Linked DNA regions of Homo sapiens: region 1 is linked to region 2. Evidence: fine-mapped expression QTL. Tissue or cell type: cerebellar hemisphere. Region 2 holds a variant in brackets; the other region holds the start of a gene. All regions are shown on one strand. Distances are from middle to middle.

What was found. PIP is the estimated chance that this variant, and not a neighbour inherited with it, causes the effect.
Region 1: RHBDL2 starts here. The variant in region 2 is fine-mapped to the expression of RHBDL2 in cerebellar hemisphere (GTEx, PIP 0.93).

The regions. Positions count from the first base shown.
Region 1 is chr1:38,936,856-38,944,962 of GRCh38, reverse strand. RHBDL2 (rhomboid like 2) reads left to right here and starts at 3,133. Exons shown (of 8, transcript NM_017821.5): 1 at 3,133-3,281.
Region 2 is chr1:38,832,516-38,840,608 of GRCh38, reverse strand. It overlaps RRAGC (Ras related GTP binding C), which reads left to right. Exons shown (of 7, transcript NM_022157.4): 7 at 905-2,411. The coding sequence ends at 1,056. Among named protein-coding and RNA genes, the nearest start is that of RRAGC, 23 kb to the left of the region's middle. The variant A/G (reference allele first, on the strand shown) is at 4,261.

The sequences.
Region 1 (8,107 bases), 100 kb before region 2:
AGTGAATGTTACATCTTCTCCTTGTCCCTTCAGGCCTAAGGCTTCCCACTGTCATTCATCCCTGGATATTCAACATCTCTTAATGACTTCCTTTACCCTTCCCAGATCTTCAAATCTAGCTGAAGATGCCTTCTCCTTCCTGCTGGTACCCTGACTGATACATAACTCCTGTCTATCCCTGGAGCAACTACTCCTTGAACATCTCCGCAGGTGCCTCTGACTCAACAGGTCCAGAACAGAATTCATTTCCCCCCAAATTGCTTTTCTTCCTGATCCTGAAATTTTTTTTTTTTTTTTGAGACGGAGTCTTGCTCTGATGCCCAGGCTGTAATGTAGTGGTGCCATCTCAGCTCAATGCAACCTCCGCCTTCCAGGTTCAAGCAATTCTAGTGCCTCAGCCCCCCGAGTAGTTGGGACTACAGGCATGTGCCAACATGCCTGGCTAAATTTTTGTATTTTTAGTAAAGACGGGGTTTCACCGTGTTAGCCAGGATGGTCTTGATCTCCTGACATTGTGATCCTCCCGCCTTGGCCTCCCAAAGTGCTGGGATTACAGACGTGAGCCACCTCACCCAACTCTTTTTCTTTTGAGACAGAGTCTCGCTCTGTCATCCACGCTAGTCTGCAGTGATGTGATCTCTGCTCACTGCAACCTCCGCCTCCTGGGTTCAAGTGATTCTCCTGTCTCAGCCTCCTGAGTAGCTGGGATTACAAGCATTCGCCACCATGCCCAGCTAATTTTTGTATTTTTAGTAGAGACAGGGTTTCACCATGTTGGCCAGGCTTGTCTCAAACTCCTGACCTCAAGTGATCCACCCATCTCGGCCTCCCAAAGTATTGGGATTACAGGCGTGAGCCACCGCGCCTGGCCATTCTTCCTGATTTCTCAATCTTGTTTGTGGTCACCACTATCAACCTAGTTAGTTATTCCAGCTGGAAATCTTCGAGTCATCCTAGATTCCTCCCTTACTCTTTAAGTCCCATCAATGGTACTCCCTTAGCATCTCTTGAATCTCTTTCTCTCACTCCCACCCCCACTCCCTAGCCAATGCCTTGATAAGGCCTACATTATCACTTGCCCTGACTCATGCAACCCTGACTGGTTTTCTTGCCTCTAGTCTTGCCTCCTTCAAACCCTTCTTTACACTGCAGGTCTCAGTGAATTTTTTTTTTTTTAAGACAGGGTCTCACTCTGTCATCCAGGCTAGAGTGCTGTGGTGTGATCATAGCTCATTGCAGCCTCAACCTCTTGGGCTCAAGCTGTCCTCTCACTTCGGCCTCTGGAGTATAGCTGGGACTACATGTGCACACTACCATTGCCCGGATAATTAAAAAAAATTTGTTTTGTAGAGACAGGTGCCACTATGTTGCTCAGGCTGGTCTCGAACTCCTGGGCCTAAGCAATCCTCCAGCCTTGACCTCCCAAATTGCTGGGATTACAGGTGTGAGCCACCACACCTGGCTCCAGTGATCTATTTTAAATGCAGTCTGATAGTTTGTGTCCCTTGTTTAAGGCCTATCTGTGAGCTAGCAGGGTGTGGTGTACCACCTGTAATCCCAGCGCTCTGGGAAGTCAAGGCGGGAGGATCTCTTGAGGCCAGGAGTTCGTGATCACCCTGGGCAACAGAGTGAAATTCCATCTCTACAAAAAATTTAAAAACTGGCTGACCATGGTGGTGGGTGCCTGTAGTCCCAGCTACACAGGCAGCTGAAGTGGGAGGATCACTTGAGTCCAGGAGTTCAAGGCTGCTTCAAGCTATGAGTGCACCACTGCACTCTAGCCTGGGTAACTGAGAGAGATCCTATTTTTTCTTTTTTCTTTTTTTTTGAGATGGAGTCTCACTCTGTTGCCCAGGCTAGAGTGCAGTGGCGCAATCTCGGCTCACTGCAACCTCTGCCTCCCAGAGAGACCCTGTATTGCAACAAACAAACGAACAAACAAACAAACAATCTTTCTATGACTCCCCAGAACCTATAGGACACAGTCCAAACTGTTTACCAAGGCACACAAGGCCCTTCATGATCTGACACTCCCTGCTCACAATTCTGAACTTTGAGTAGTTCCTGCTGAATTCCGTCCCTTCCCATGGCCTTTTCTGTCAGCCTGTGCTCCCCTTCTGTGTGCTCCCCGCTTACAATTCTGGAAAACCCCTGTTCACCTTTCAAAACCCATCTTGTATGTCATGTCATCTAGGAGCTTTTCCAGAACACTTCCACACAGGGGGATTCCTCTCTGGTCCCTTCTGCCTGAATTTTTTTTTTTTTTTTTTTTTGAGACCGAGTTTCGCTGTTGTTGCCCAGGCTGGAGTGCAATGGCGTGATCTTGGCTCACTGCAACCTCCGCCTCCCGGGTTCAAGCGATTCTCCTGCCTCAGCCTCCCGAGTGGCTGGGATTACAGGCATGCACCACCATGCCCAGCTAATTTTGTATTTTTAGTAGAGATGAGGTTTCTCCATGTTGATCAGGCTGGTCTCGAACTCCCGACTTCAGGTGATCCACCCACCTCAACCTCCCAAAGTGCTGGGATTACAGGCGTGAGACACCATGCCTGGCCACCTTCTGCCTGAATCTTGAGCAGCGTCTACTTAGAGCTTCATTCTTTGTCTTCCTAGTAGAGTAGGAGGTCAGGGACCCCGTTAATCTACCTCTTCATCCTCAGGGCCTCACACAAGGCCAGTTATTCTCAAAATGCTTTGAATGAATAATCAGAGCTGGCAAAGCTATTTCACCAGGGGCCATGGTGTCACCAATTCTTCTGTGGACTAAATCTCTGCTGAGGATCGTCAAGTCACCCACCCTGGTGCCCAGTACAGGCCTGGCTTCAGACTGGAGCATAACCAAATGCAGAGTGATAGAGACCACCCGGTTGAGGCGTCAGAGAGCTGAGAGTGGAGAGCAGGGGACCCAGGCATGAAGCAGGAGGGCAGGACTTGGAGGAGGAATGGAGCTCAGTGTCCTGGAGAAAGAGCAGAGGCTGCCACCGGCTCCCTGGCTAAGACCCAAGCAGGCGAAGAGGAGGACTCATTCATCCAGGGCCAGCCCAGGAGCAAGACTGCCAAGCAGGCCGGCCCAGCCCAGCTGGGAGGGGATTTCCTCAGCCTCCCTCCTCCTGGGCTGGGCAGCTTTGGAACCTGTCTGGAGGATTTTTGTTTGGGGAGGGACGGAGGAGCGCCTGGCAGAGCGGGATCTTCAGGGCAGCGGGCAACCCCTTGGCCCAGGAAGCCTGGAACGCAAGGACCGGAGGGCGTGGGCTGGGACGCCCCTACCTTGGTCTTTCAGGGTAAGATGTGGGAGCTGGGAGGGAGTGGAGGGAGTCCTATGTCAGGACAAGGGGGCGGCAGCAGGAAGTGCAGGGCCGAGGGGTGCTGTGCAGGAAGGAGGAGGGACATGTGGGGTGCTTCGCTGGTAACCCCCCTTCTGGAGTGACCTCCTGGTGTGGCCGCTTTGGATCCTGCTACTTTCATTTTAAAAGTTGGCAGCATGTTGGGCCAGGAGTCAGGGGCTATCTTCCCGAGGGAAATGGCAGGGAAGGGCTGAGGATGAGGACAGAGTAATTCCATTCCTCTTCCCTGCCCTTCACACTGGCTTTCCCTCCAGCCATCACGTTCTCCCCAGCACCCCCTACCCTCCTAAGTTTTTCTAACTCCAACTAAGCCAGTTCCTAGCCCTTTGCTGACCTGGACACTGGAGACCACAGCCAGGGAGACAGTCTCCACTTCTACCCGCAAGGCGGCTCCTCCAGAGTTATTTGTTTCCTTCTTCCTGGTGTGGGTATCAGAGAGATTTCACTCAATCTTTCATTTATTCATTAGTGTTCATTTGTTTATTCATCACTGTTTGAGCATATACCTGGATTCTCTGGAGGGAGGGCTGCGCAATTTCTGCTCCTCTTGGGAATAAGAAAACTGAAACTTATTGCTCAAACATTTGATGGTCATCTACAAGCTGGTGGGCAGCATGGCAGAGCAGAAAATTATTTTGGAGTCACAAAGACACTTGGCTTTTTATCCCATATCTCCTGTTTACCTCCTGAGCCTCAGTTTCCTCAGCTATAATTTTTTTTTAAAGAGACAGGGTCTTGCTACCTTGCCCAGGCTGCAGTGCAGTGGCTGATCATAGCTTACTACAACTTCAAACTCCTGTGCTCAAGCAGTCTTCTTGCCTCAGCTTCCTGAGTTAACTGAGGCACGGCGGCCAGCTCAAAATGATATTTTTATGAAGATGACAGGGAACAATGCATGTTGAATACCAAGCTGGGTGCCAGGCTCATTGTGGAGCCTTCCTAAACACCTGTGCTTTTCCCTTCCTCTTTGACTGCCTTCTTGCCATGCCTCTCCCTAACCAGCAACTCCCTCACCTTAGGCTTGTAAAGATATGCTAGACAACCCCTGGCCTTGAAAGCACGTAGGCAGCGTGTAAACAGAACTGGCCAGTGACGGGTGGAGTGGTGAAGGGAGAGGGAAGGTTGGGTTCCATGGCTCGCTCCCAGTGATTTGGGAGGCCGAGGCGGGAGGATTCCTTGAGTCCAGGAGTTCGAGACCAGCCTGGGCAATAAAGTGAGGCCTTGTCTTTAAAAAATAAAATAAAAAAGAAGGGAGAGCCACATAGGCATGGGATTAGGGAAGGTGTCAGGTGCTGGTTTGTGGTAAAAATACTGGACCAGGGCTGAGTCCAGACATGCTGTGTTTCTGAATTTGCACACTCAACACTGAGCAAGTGATGGGAACCACCAATTCCTAAACTATGGATGCAGGCTAAGGGCTTTTAAATGCATTCTCTTATTTAATCATAATCCTCTTATGATATTATTATTAACCCTATTTTATAGATGGGGAAATGAAGATACAAACAGGTTAAGGGATTTGCCTAAGGTCACATGGCTAATAAGTAATGGATCCAGAATTCAAGTCTAGGTCAGACTCTAAACTCCATGCTTTTTGCTCTGGTGCTTGCTGTCTTTCAAGTTTCTCTGTATTAGAAAGACCAGGCTGGGGGCGGTGACTCATGCCTGTAGTCCCAACATTTTGGGAGGCTGAGGTAGGAGGATTGCTTGAAGCCAGGAGTTCAAAGCCAGCCTGGGCAACAAGCGAGACCCTGTCTCAAAAAAAAAAGAAGTCCTGGCACGGTGGCTCACGCCAGCCGTAGTAATCCCAGCACTTTAGGAGGCCAAGGTGGGAGAATTGCTTGAGTCCAGGACTTTGAGACTGGCCTGGGCAACACAGTGAGACCTCTTCTCTACAAAAAATAAAACAAAATTAGCCTGGTGTGGTGGTGTGCACCTGTAGTCTCAGCTACTTGGTTTTTTTTTTGAGGTGGAGCCTCACTCTGTGGCCCAGGCTGGAGTGCAGTGGCGGCATCCCCATCTCAGTTGATTCTCTCACCTCAGCCTCCTGAATAGCTGGGACTATAGGTGCACACCATCATGCCCAGCTAACTTTTGTTGTTGTTGTTGTTGTATTTTTGGTAGAGACAAGGTTTCATCATGTTGCCCAGGATGGTCTTGAACTCCTGGACTCGAGTGATCCACCTGCCTTGGCCTCCCAAAGTGTGGGGATTACAGGCATGAGCCACCATGCCTGGCCCATCTCAGCTACTTTGTAGGCTGAGATGGGAGGATCATTTGAGCCTGAGACGCCAAGGCTGCCGTGAGCTGAGATCAGGCCGCTGCACTCCAGCCTGGGTGACAGAGCAAGACTGTCTCTCAAGGAAAAGAAAAAAGAAAGACCAAAAGGGCATCAGCATTCCCCAACTACCTCTCTAGACACTGGCCTTTCACTTCCTGTAGATCTGCTCTGGGCTGCTGCATCCAGACTCCTTCCCTGATTCGTTAACTCATTCACTCATTCCTACATCATTCATTAAATCAAGTGCTCTGTTTATCCCCTGAGACTACAAAGTTTCAAGAGGGCAGGGATCATAAGCATGATCCTGTTCATTCAGTTTTATAATCCTGTTCGTTCAGCACCTCATTCATTCCTGATACAAAAATTTTCAATGAATTCTTTGTGAGTAAATGAATTTGACAAATATTTACTGATGCATTCCATGGACTAGGTAATAGGGAGTCAAAGATGAATAATGCGGAAGCCCTGTCCTCAGAATGCTCACAGCCTTGTAGAGGAGACAGTTATAATACAAAGAAGACATTGATGCTCTAGATGCAAACAGAGGTTGCTGATGGAACTAAGAAGGGCATTTAATTCTACCATGCATCCTCGGTGCCTAACACAATGCTAAGCATGTGGTAGATGCTCAGTAAGGCTTTGCAGAGGAGTTGTAAAGGACAGAGTCTTTTAGTTTTGTTTTTCTTTAATTAAAAAATTTTCTTTTCTTTTCTTTAACTTAATCCCAAATGTGATAGTAAGGAACAGAGTCTTAAAGGGGGTGTTAATACTTCCCTGGGACAACAAATGGGGAGTGTGGGAGGATGTTCTAGCAGAGGGAGGAGCTCATGAAAAGACCTCATGGAGAGTGGGAGCTGGAACTGCTAGGGGCTCAGTGTGGCTGGGGCATAGGGTATATTTGGGGAAATGGAAAGAAATGAAGGTGGATAAATAGGCAGGGTTCAGGTCATGAGGTCTTTCTGTGCCTCGTTAAGGAATCTAGGCTTTAAACCAAAGACATTGGATACCCATTGAAAAGATTTTGGCTGGGCGCGGTGGCTCACGCCTCTAATCCCAGCACTTTGGGAGGCCGAGGCGGGCGGATCACAAGGTCAGGAGTTCGAGACCAGCCTGACCAATATGGTGAAACCCCACCTCTACTAAAAAAAAAAAATTAGCTGGGCATGGTGGCGTGCACCTGTAGTCCCAGCCACTCTGGAGGTTGAGGGAGGAGAATCGCTTGAACCCAGGAGGCAGAGGTTGTAGTGAGTCAAGATTGTGCCGCTGCACTCCAGCCTGGGCAACAGAGTGAGACACTGTCTCAAAAAAAAAAAAATTAGCAATGAGAATGACACTACCTGATTTGCATTTCAGAAGTGAGGCTGATGTGTAGGGGCCTAGGATATGAAGACGCCAAGGTTTTCAGGCCTGATGGGTCCCCACCTATCTATGAAAATTAGTCTTCCTTTTTAAGACTTCAGCATGGTTTGTTCATGAAGGATCTCTTGAGTTGGCCTGTTCCTGATGACTGGTACTTTGCCCTCAGCTGTATACTGGGTCACAGTGAATCTGTTCCTCCTAATAAAAGTTTGGAAATTTATAAATAGTTTCCTTTTGTATAATCTGGAATAAGTTCAAGGATACTACTTGCAATACCTTGTGCTTTCTTATGCCAGAGAGCTAGAGATGGAGGTGTAGAAGGGTTTCCAGGAATTATATCTAGCTCTGAGTGTGCCCAGTGAGGGTGTGTCAAACTAGCCAGTGGTCCTGGAACTGGGGATGCGGGGGCACAGATAACATTAAAAGAGTCCATTTCCAGATTCTCAGCTTCTGCAGGGACTCTTGCCTAAAAGTCATCTGCTTGTCTGGATTCTTTTAAGTTCTCCTTTTCAACTCTGTTTTCATTGTTTCTCTTCTTTGGCTTTATAAGAAAGTTACACCTCTGTCCATCCCAAATTCATTGAACAAGGTCCATTGTTCAAAAGGACAGTTAGAGAATGCTGTGTTCCTGAGAGATAGCAAGTAAAGAGAGATTAGGCAGGAGAAACTAAAGGGTGCTGTGCCTCTACTACAGACTCGTAGTATTTGTTTTATTTAAGAATACTCGGCCAGGGGCCAGGCGCGGTGGCTCACGCCTGTAATCCCAGCACTTTGAGAGGCCGAGGCGGGTGGATCACAAGGTCAGGAGATTGAGACATCCTGGCTAATATGGTGAAACCCTGTCTCTACTAAAAATACAAAAAATTAGCTGGGTGTGGTGGCGGGTGCCTGTAGTCTCAGCTACTTGGGAGGCTGAGGCAGGAGAATGGTGTGAACCCGGGAGGCGGAGCATGCAGTGAGCCGAGACTGTGCCACTGCACTCCAGCCTGGGTGACAGGGTGAGACTCTGTCTCAAAAAAAAAAAAAAGAACACTCGAGAATACTCGGCCAGGCATGGTGGCTCACACCTGTAATCCCAGCACTTTGGGAGGCCGAGTTGGGTGGATGACTTGAGGTCAGGAGT
Region 2 (8,093 bases):
TTGTCCCTGAAGTTTTCAGTTGATTACTTTGCCCTGCACTTGGCTTTTTCTTTGGATTTCCTTCACAGTTGTAGTCAATTTGACACCAGATTGTTTTGGTTTGTTTCTTGTATTTTGGCTTTATGCCTCAGCTAGCATATCCTGTCTGGAAGTCATGGACCATATCTGCTGTTTCCTTTGACATATTGTACCCTCTATCGTGCTGTGTAATAAGTATTTACTGACTTTCATCAAATCAAATATAAACTATTGAAAGATCACACTATGTTCAAGCAGGCCACACAGTGTATTTGAATATTTTACTTTTCTTGAATGTGAATTGAGTGATTTGAAACTTGGATGCCAGAGGTATTAATTTGGCCAAGGTGATGGTCTAATTGCAATCGCATTTGTTTTCTAGCAGAACGTTATGATGGTGGATATATATGATGACCAGCTGTTCTTTTTTTTTTTTTTTTTTTGAGTTGGAGTCTCGCTCTGTCACCCAGGCTGGAATGCAATGGTGCAATCTTGGCTCACTGCAAGCTTTGCCTCCCAGGTTCACGCCATTCTCTTGCCTCAGCCTCCTGAGTAGCTGGTACTACAGGTGCCCGCCACCATGCCCGGCTAATTTTTTTTGTATTTTTAGTAGAGACGGGGTTTCACCGTGTTAGCCAGGATGGTCTTGATCTCCTGACCTTGTGATCTGCCCGCCTCGGCCTCCCAAAGTGCTGGGGTTACAGGCGTGAGCCACTGCACCTGACCGATGACCAGCTGTTCTTACGATTGAAGAAGTTGCTATCTAGTTTGGAGGCTTAAGAATTTCCAACCAGTGTTTATCCGAGTTATTTTTGGCTGCAAACCCAAATATAAAATTTCACAATTGACAATTCAGGAGGCATTCTTTTCTTTTTCCTTCCTGCAGGTTTAATAGACTACAACTTCCACTGTTTCCGAAAAGCTATTCATGAGGTTTTTGAGGTGGGTGTGACTTCTCACAGGAGCTGTGGTCACCAGACTAGTGCCTCCAGTCTGAAAGCGCTGACACACAATGGCACGCCACGAAACGCCATCTAGTCTGAATCCCAGCGTCGGGGCTCTGTGCCAGCTTACTCTTCACTCCAGGGTCGGATGCCACGTGCTACAGGACATGGGAGCTGCTGCTTGTGGGAATCTGGTGCCTGTTCCACTAGAGACAAGGGGTAGAGTTTCTCATTTGGATGAAAACCCCTTCAACTGGTGGTGTACAACTGAAGCTACTATATCTTTTTTGAAAATGGCAAAAAAAAAAAAAAAAAATTCTGGAGACCACAGAACTCAAGTGTGTGTTTCTCCTCTTTTGGGTCCCCTTTAAGTAGTTGGGATATTTTGGACCTGGAGATAACACCAGTTACCCATCCTTACCAGGGAATGTTGCCATCAATTCCAGTTGAAAATAATAGAAAAGACTGAATTTTTATATGCTTCACTTAGGCTTTCATTTGAGTAGACTCTAAAAATTCTGCCTTGCTTAAGTTCTAACACTGCCTCTCAGATTTCAGTTTTGGACATTGCACAACTAAGACCTTTTAAATGCATTTGCTTGCTAACTCGGAAGACACATAGTCTGCAGCAAGACATTCCTATATTGAAGAAATGAGAGAAAATTTTATGCTGCATCAGGTGGAGAGCAAGGCTCAACGGTGGTTGCATTAGTTCCCTCGGAAGTATTGAAAAAACTTTGAAATGGAAGAAAATTTTTGCACCTATGTTCTGAGTACCAGATGTCTGGGTTCTTTCTTCTGCATTAGATAAATGATCATGCTCAGTGTAACAAAGGGAATTAAAAGTTTTCCCACAGTCCCCTTCTAGGGGAGAAACTCATTGTGTCACTGAAATGTTTAGCTTACTTTAATCTTGATATCAGCCTCTACAGACCTTTTATTCTAAGCTATCGAGCTTCTTGATTGCATTTGGTTGACCACGAGTGACCCTAAGGCATTGGGGGACTGTCCACTGGGAGTTGGAGTGAGCACGTGGTGCTGCAACAGGCATTGTTTTACATACTTTGTCTCTAGTATTCTGACACCAAGTGTCAACTGTGGTACTTTCTTTGCCTAGGATATGAATTCATAATTGTTGCTTTTGTTGATGGTTGATACCCTTTCCATTGATTTAAACCTAACACATTATTTCTATTCCACATGCCCAGTAGACATATATTCCAAAGCCACTGGACCACTTGAGTACATAAGTGCCACTGTTTAATGCAATATGTATATTCAGGTCTGTAAAGCTAACAGTGTGACTTGGAGTGCTTCCTGCAGGTGATTCTGACTTGAGTATTTACATGGACCATGGTGATATCCAAAAGAAAAATGCTTTTTATATTTATAGATTATTTCATTGAACTATATATGAAATGGGTATCAATAAATGTATTTACTCCAAAATCAGCGTTTCTCCTTGCCTGAGGTATGGAGGGTGGTGGCGGAACGTTGGGTTGTCCCACTTTGCCGTTTTCTCATCCATTTCTTTTTCTTTTGCTGCTTCCTGTGGTTAATGTTTCTTATGTGTCAGAGCTTCAGGTTCTATCCCGATGTGGGAATTTCATGGCCTTGTGTCTAGGTATCTCCCCTGGCCCATTTCTGCTCTAGGGTAGTAAATCTAAGCTCAGGTGAAAATGTTTTTGGTTGGGTGTTTCATATACACAAATCTCACACATGGTGGGGAGTATCCTGGTCCTGGCATCATTAATGTGTTAATCCAACCTAAGAAGGAGTGAGGAGATGAGTGAAGTAAAACACACTTAAACAATTGTACCGATTCCAGCTTGTTTTCTGTTTCCTCCAGTTGCTGACATACTCATTGACTCACTCTTAAATGTCAGTTAAATAATTGTTTGTCTATACAAACAGGTTGGGTCTAAACTAATCAGAGAAAAATAGACATTAGTTTATCAGTGGGAGGAAGACAGATTGAAAGATCTTTAAATTTTGTAATTGGACTACTTTAGAAGCTGTTTTAATTCTGAAATGGAAATCACAGAAACAGCTTGAAAAAACTCTTGTGAAACTATCTAATCCTGTCTTCTTTTTCAGATTTTGGAAACAGGTGCAGAGGGATAAGGAGCCTTGTTGAGGCTGTAGCTAGGAAGACTGTATAACTTAAATTCCAGATACTGTTGAGAGTGGAAGGGATGCCATTAGTAAGGATGCCTGAGCAGCAGGTGTGAACTGGCACTGTTGAGGGTACACTAAGGGTGGCCAGCCTCATCATAGATCTAATTAGTGGCAAAACAGGGCTTGTCCTCCAGGCCTGGCAGCCCAGCGTGGCATGCCTTTACTTGCAGCCTCCGGCCTTAGGCTCCCATTGGTTAAATGGAGAGAATATTTCAAGATGCATGTGGTACATAGATGCCCAATAAATGTTATGTTTTCCTGTTACTGAAAATTATAAATTCAGTCAGTGATTAAGGAGAAGTCTTTAATTGTGAAATAGAAAGTAAATGTGAAAGGAGACAACTCAGGATGAAGAAAACGGAGAATAAAATGATCAGGGTTTTGCTTGAAATGTTTTGCATCCCAGTGGATGTTGATCTCTACCAGTCTACTTCAAAGAGAACTAGGACAGATGGTTAAAAAATACCTTAAAGTCTTAAGCAGCAAGGTATTTTAGCTATTTCACATACCACCACCTCTCCCATTCACATTCATATATACACACACATACATATATGCATGTATATAATATCTCAATATAGAATGCTGGAGGTATTTGGGAGTTAATTTACCTTCTACATCTTGAGTTCTGTGTGGAGAAATGATTTAAAAGATAAAATCAAGCATTGTTGGAGAAAGCACTGTGTGTGAATTTTGGACTTTGGTAAGGATCTCTATCCTTTGTTTTGCAAATGCTGAAAGCCCTTCCAGTTATTCAAAAGAGATTATTAGTACCACTGTTTTCCATCTAAGCTAGTAAGTAAGCTAGTTAGTTTAAATGCTCCCCCTGTCCCTCTTGGGGGTCCCAAAGGAACATAGTCTGTAAGGGGAATGTGGACAGCAGCTGGGCATAACTGGAGAGGTTTTTTTTTTTTTTTTTTTTTTGAGACAAAATTTCGCTCTTGTCACCCAGGCGGCTGGAGTGCAATGGCGCAATCTTGGCTCACCGCAACATCCACCTCCCGGATTCAAGCGATTCTCCTGCCTCAGGCTCCTGAGTAGCTGGGATTACAGGCATGCGCCACCACACCCGGCTAATTTTGTATTTTTTCGGTAGAGATGGGGTTTCTCCATTTTGGCC[A/G]GGCTGGTCTTGAACTCCCGACCTCAGGTGATCCACCTGCCTCGGCCTCCCAAAGTGCTGGGATTACAGGCATGAGCCACCGTGCCAGGTGAGTGTTATTTGTTAATAGTAACTTCCCGGAACGGTACATTAGGATACTTTGGATACAAATAACATCCAAGAAGGACTTGAAGGGAAAGCCAACCACCACTAATTATTTTAGGTGGTTTACGTGTATTACCTTGTAATCTTCACAACTCCTTGGGAAGTAGGTGTTATATTCCTATGTTACAGAAGGGGAAATAGATACAGAACGGCTCAATTGTAAAGTGGTAGAGTTAGAATGGGAACCCATGCAGTTTGATTCCATAACCTGCAGCCGCAAACTACCACTCGACCTTCCTTTCCTAGTAGGGAGGGCGAGTTTGCTCACTGGTGTGTTTTGAAAGAAAGAAAACAACAACAACAACAAAAGGATTCTATAGTTAAGTTTTGGAAACTTGCAATCTGTAGTCTCTCTTTGGAGATTTTCTACATACAGTCAAATATGAAAGGTTCTGAGAAGACCTGCAATAAGGAAGCCTGTTTACCTTGGTTTATATCCCATGTTCCTAGGTTTATTTGACACATTAAAGAAATGCATATTCATTCAATCAGTGTGTAATAAATTCACAGTTTTGAAATGTTTTCATGAGATTGGAAGTATGATTTTTACACTGTTTTCCAAGTATCTTAATACAACCATCACCAAACTGGTTTCTTGGATGGCTAGTTCAACACCTGTCTTTGTAGGTAGTGAGCAGGAAGCATATTTAACTACTCTGTAACATTTCCTCAGTATCTTTACTCATTTAAGCCAGATGTGCTGCGAAGCACAGGCAGCTTGTCTACCTTTTCAGCCTGTTTGGTGATGGTGTCCAAGTCCTTAGTGTATGGCCTCTAGGTGGCAGTGTTGTATTATCTAAACACAGCTTCTTGCTTTCTGGCTTCTGCATGTGTGCTCTGTCCTGAAAGTTTGTATTGCCCGTATCACCTAAGTGCACACCTAACTTAGAGATCCAAAAAATTCCTGAAGTATTTTCCCTAGGATAACATTCAGGACTGATTTGAGACATCTTATTGGAAGTGGAGCAGTTGATGATTTCCACTTTTTAGTGAGGGGTTGGGTAAAACGAAGGTCATTAACATCATTTGCTTTATGTATTACTAGTTACAAAAGGGCCTTAAGACAGCTGTAGCCACATTCCTATAGCAGGCAGAACTTCTTGCTTCCTCTTCTAATCCATCTGTTGTAAATGTGTGTGGTCTTCAAGACTCCATGGAAAGAAATGCCACATATTTGAATTAAAATATCTGTTTTCACCACTTTTCTTTGTGTCAAATGAGGTTTGTTGAAATTATTTCACACTTATGCTTGAGAGATAAAATATGGCAAAGGAAAAGGCTGCAGAACCTTATCCTTCCATGGGTACTTATTTTTCCTTTTTTTTTTTTTTTTGAGACAAGGTCTTGCTCTGTCATACAGGCTGGAGTGCAGTGGCACGATCATAGCTCCCTGCGACCTCAACCTCCCAGGCTCAAGCGATCCTCCTGCCTCAGCCTCCCGAATAGCTGGGACTACAGGCATGCACCACCATGCCTGGCTAATTTTCTTTTTAATGTAGAGATGAGGGTCTCTCCATGTTGCCCAGGCTGGTCTCAGACTCCTGGGATCAGGCAATCCTCCACTGCCTCAGCTTCCCAAAGTGCTGGGATTACAGGTGTGAGTCATTGCTCCCAGCTTGTTTTTCTTTCTTCTAGAGCCATGTAATTGCTTCACAATCCCCAGCTGTGACTTTGCTCTGCAAAGACAAATTTTAGTGTAAAAAGAACTAGATACACCAGTGCATCTTCAGACCTGTTTAAAATATAATTGAGAAAATTGCAAAGGACTGTTATAATGAGGAACTGAATGGCAGGAAACTAGTTGTTCCTCCCCACACTTGAAAATGCCAGTTACTACCAACGTGTTGCCCGCAAAGTGCTGCAACTTCCACTTTAAGATTCTTACACTTTAAAATGCATCTTTTGAACTGATCAAATATATATATTTGTTATTGTGTGTTTTGTTTTGAGATGGAGTCTCACTCTGTTGCCCAGGCTGGAGTGCAGTGGCGTGATCTCGGCTCACTGCAACCTCCACCTCCTGGATTCAAGTAGTTCTCCTGCCTCAGCCTTCTGAGTAGCTGGGATTACAGGCGTGCACCACCAGGCCTGGCTAATGTTTTGTGCTTTTAGTAGAGATGGGGTTTCACCATGTTGGCCAGGCTGGTCTCGAACTCTTAACTTCAAGTGATCTGCTCGCCTCGGCCTCCCAGAGTGCTGGGATTACAGGCGTGAGCCACCACACCCAGCCTGGACTGATAAAATATTAGAAGGCATGTGGGAGACAATTAATTTGGTTTATTACAAAGTAACCTGCCGAACAGACAGGAACTTGACTTAGAGAAATGGAATATTAATTTTCTACAATATTCTTTTTGCTTTTCTTTAAAAAAGAGGTGCTGGCACACACATTTTAGCAAATTGTGAATATTCCTTCCTTTCTTTCCATGGCCTCTCTCTTATCTCCATGCAAATTGGCATGCAAACTTTGTGTTCCAGGTAATGAGGCTCCAGACAGGGCCTATCTTTCTCTGAAAAGCAGTGCTGGCATGTTCTGTACTGAGGCTTTTTCCCAGAAAATGTACTGCCTCTACAGCTTTGGAAGATGAACTGAGAAATAACGCTTATAACCCTACCAAACATTTCTCGAATATCTGTCTTGACTTTGGAAAGGGAGCTATTGGCCATTTCCATGCTTGGAGGATTCTTTTCTTCTACTGCACTGTAGTTCTTCCTGGCTAGATGTCTAGCACGGAGGCTCCTTGGACTAGTTCCTCACATGACCCCTGTGGCAGTCTATTGATGGGAACGGGACAATTGAGAAAGGCAGGCAGGCTGTCTGGCAAAAAGAAACTCATTAGGGTCAGGGGCCACAGGATCTCCATGGAGATGTTCTCTGGACTACTAGAGTGTTGAGGCTGGATGAAGGGGAAGAGGGCTGAGCTAGAGATCGAATTGGCATACTGAGTGGGAGCAGGGTGGGGTGGGAGGCAGAACTGGGCCTTAGGGAGGGCCTTGGTCAGTCAATGGAAGGAAGACAGCTGGAACAGAAGTTAGAATGATTCATGCAGTGAGAAGGAAACCAGGTAGAAAGGGAGGAATGCTCACCACTGAAATGTCTCTTATTTGTTGAAATGAAATTAAGGTCTCTAATTTGTTCTTATCCTTCAGGTTTCTGTGCCTGGAATCTGGAAAAGGAGACAGATTCTCCTAGATTTTGCCTAGGAATGTTAGTGACCTTGAGAGGCCTTCCAAATGGAGATCTGGGCCACACAGTGGAGATCTCGACCTGCCTCTGTAGGTCCTTGACTCTCCTCTTCCAATGTATCAAGTCCTTCATTTATTCTTGATTTCTTTCAGATCCAAAATAATGGTCAAAAAAGTGCTGTTTAGCTGGTATTATTTTCATGTTATCCCTTACCACAGTTTATCTCAATTCTCACAGGAGCCTCAATGCTTATCTCTTAGATCCTTTTCTTCTTTTAAAAAATTTGGGCTAGCCTATACTAATAATTGTACTAGTTTAATTAAAATTATGATTAGCAGTAGCATGCGTATCTTAATATTTGAGAGCTTACAGCTTGCCAGCCGTTGTGCTAAGAGCCTTACTTGTGCCTTCTCCTCTAATCCATCCAGTGTAATGAGGTTGGAGCTATTGTTGTGGTCCATTTTACAGATGAGAAAACTGAGGCACAGAGAACCTGCAGGAA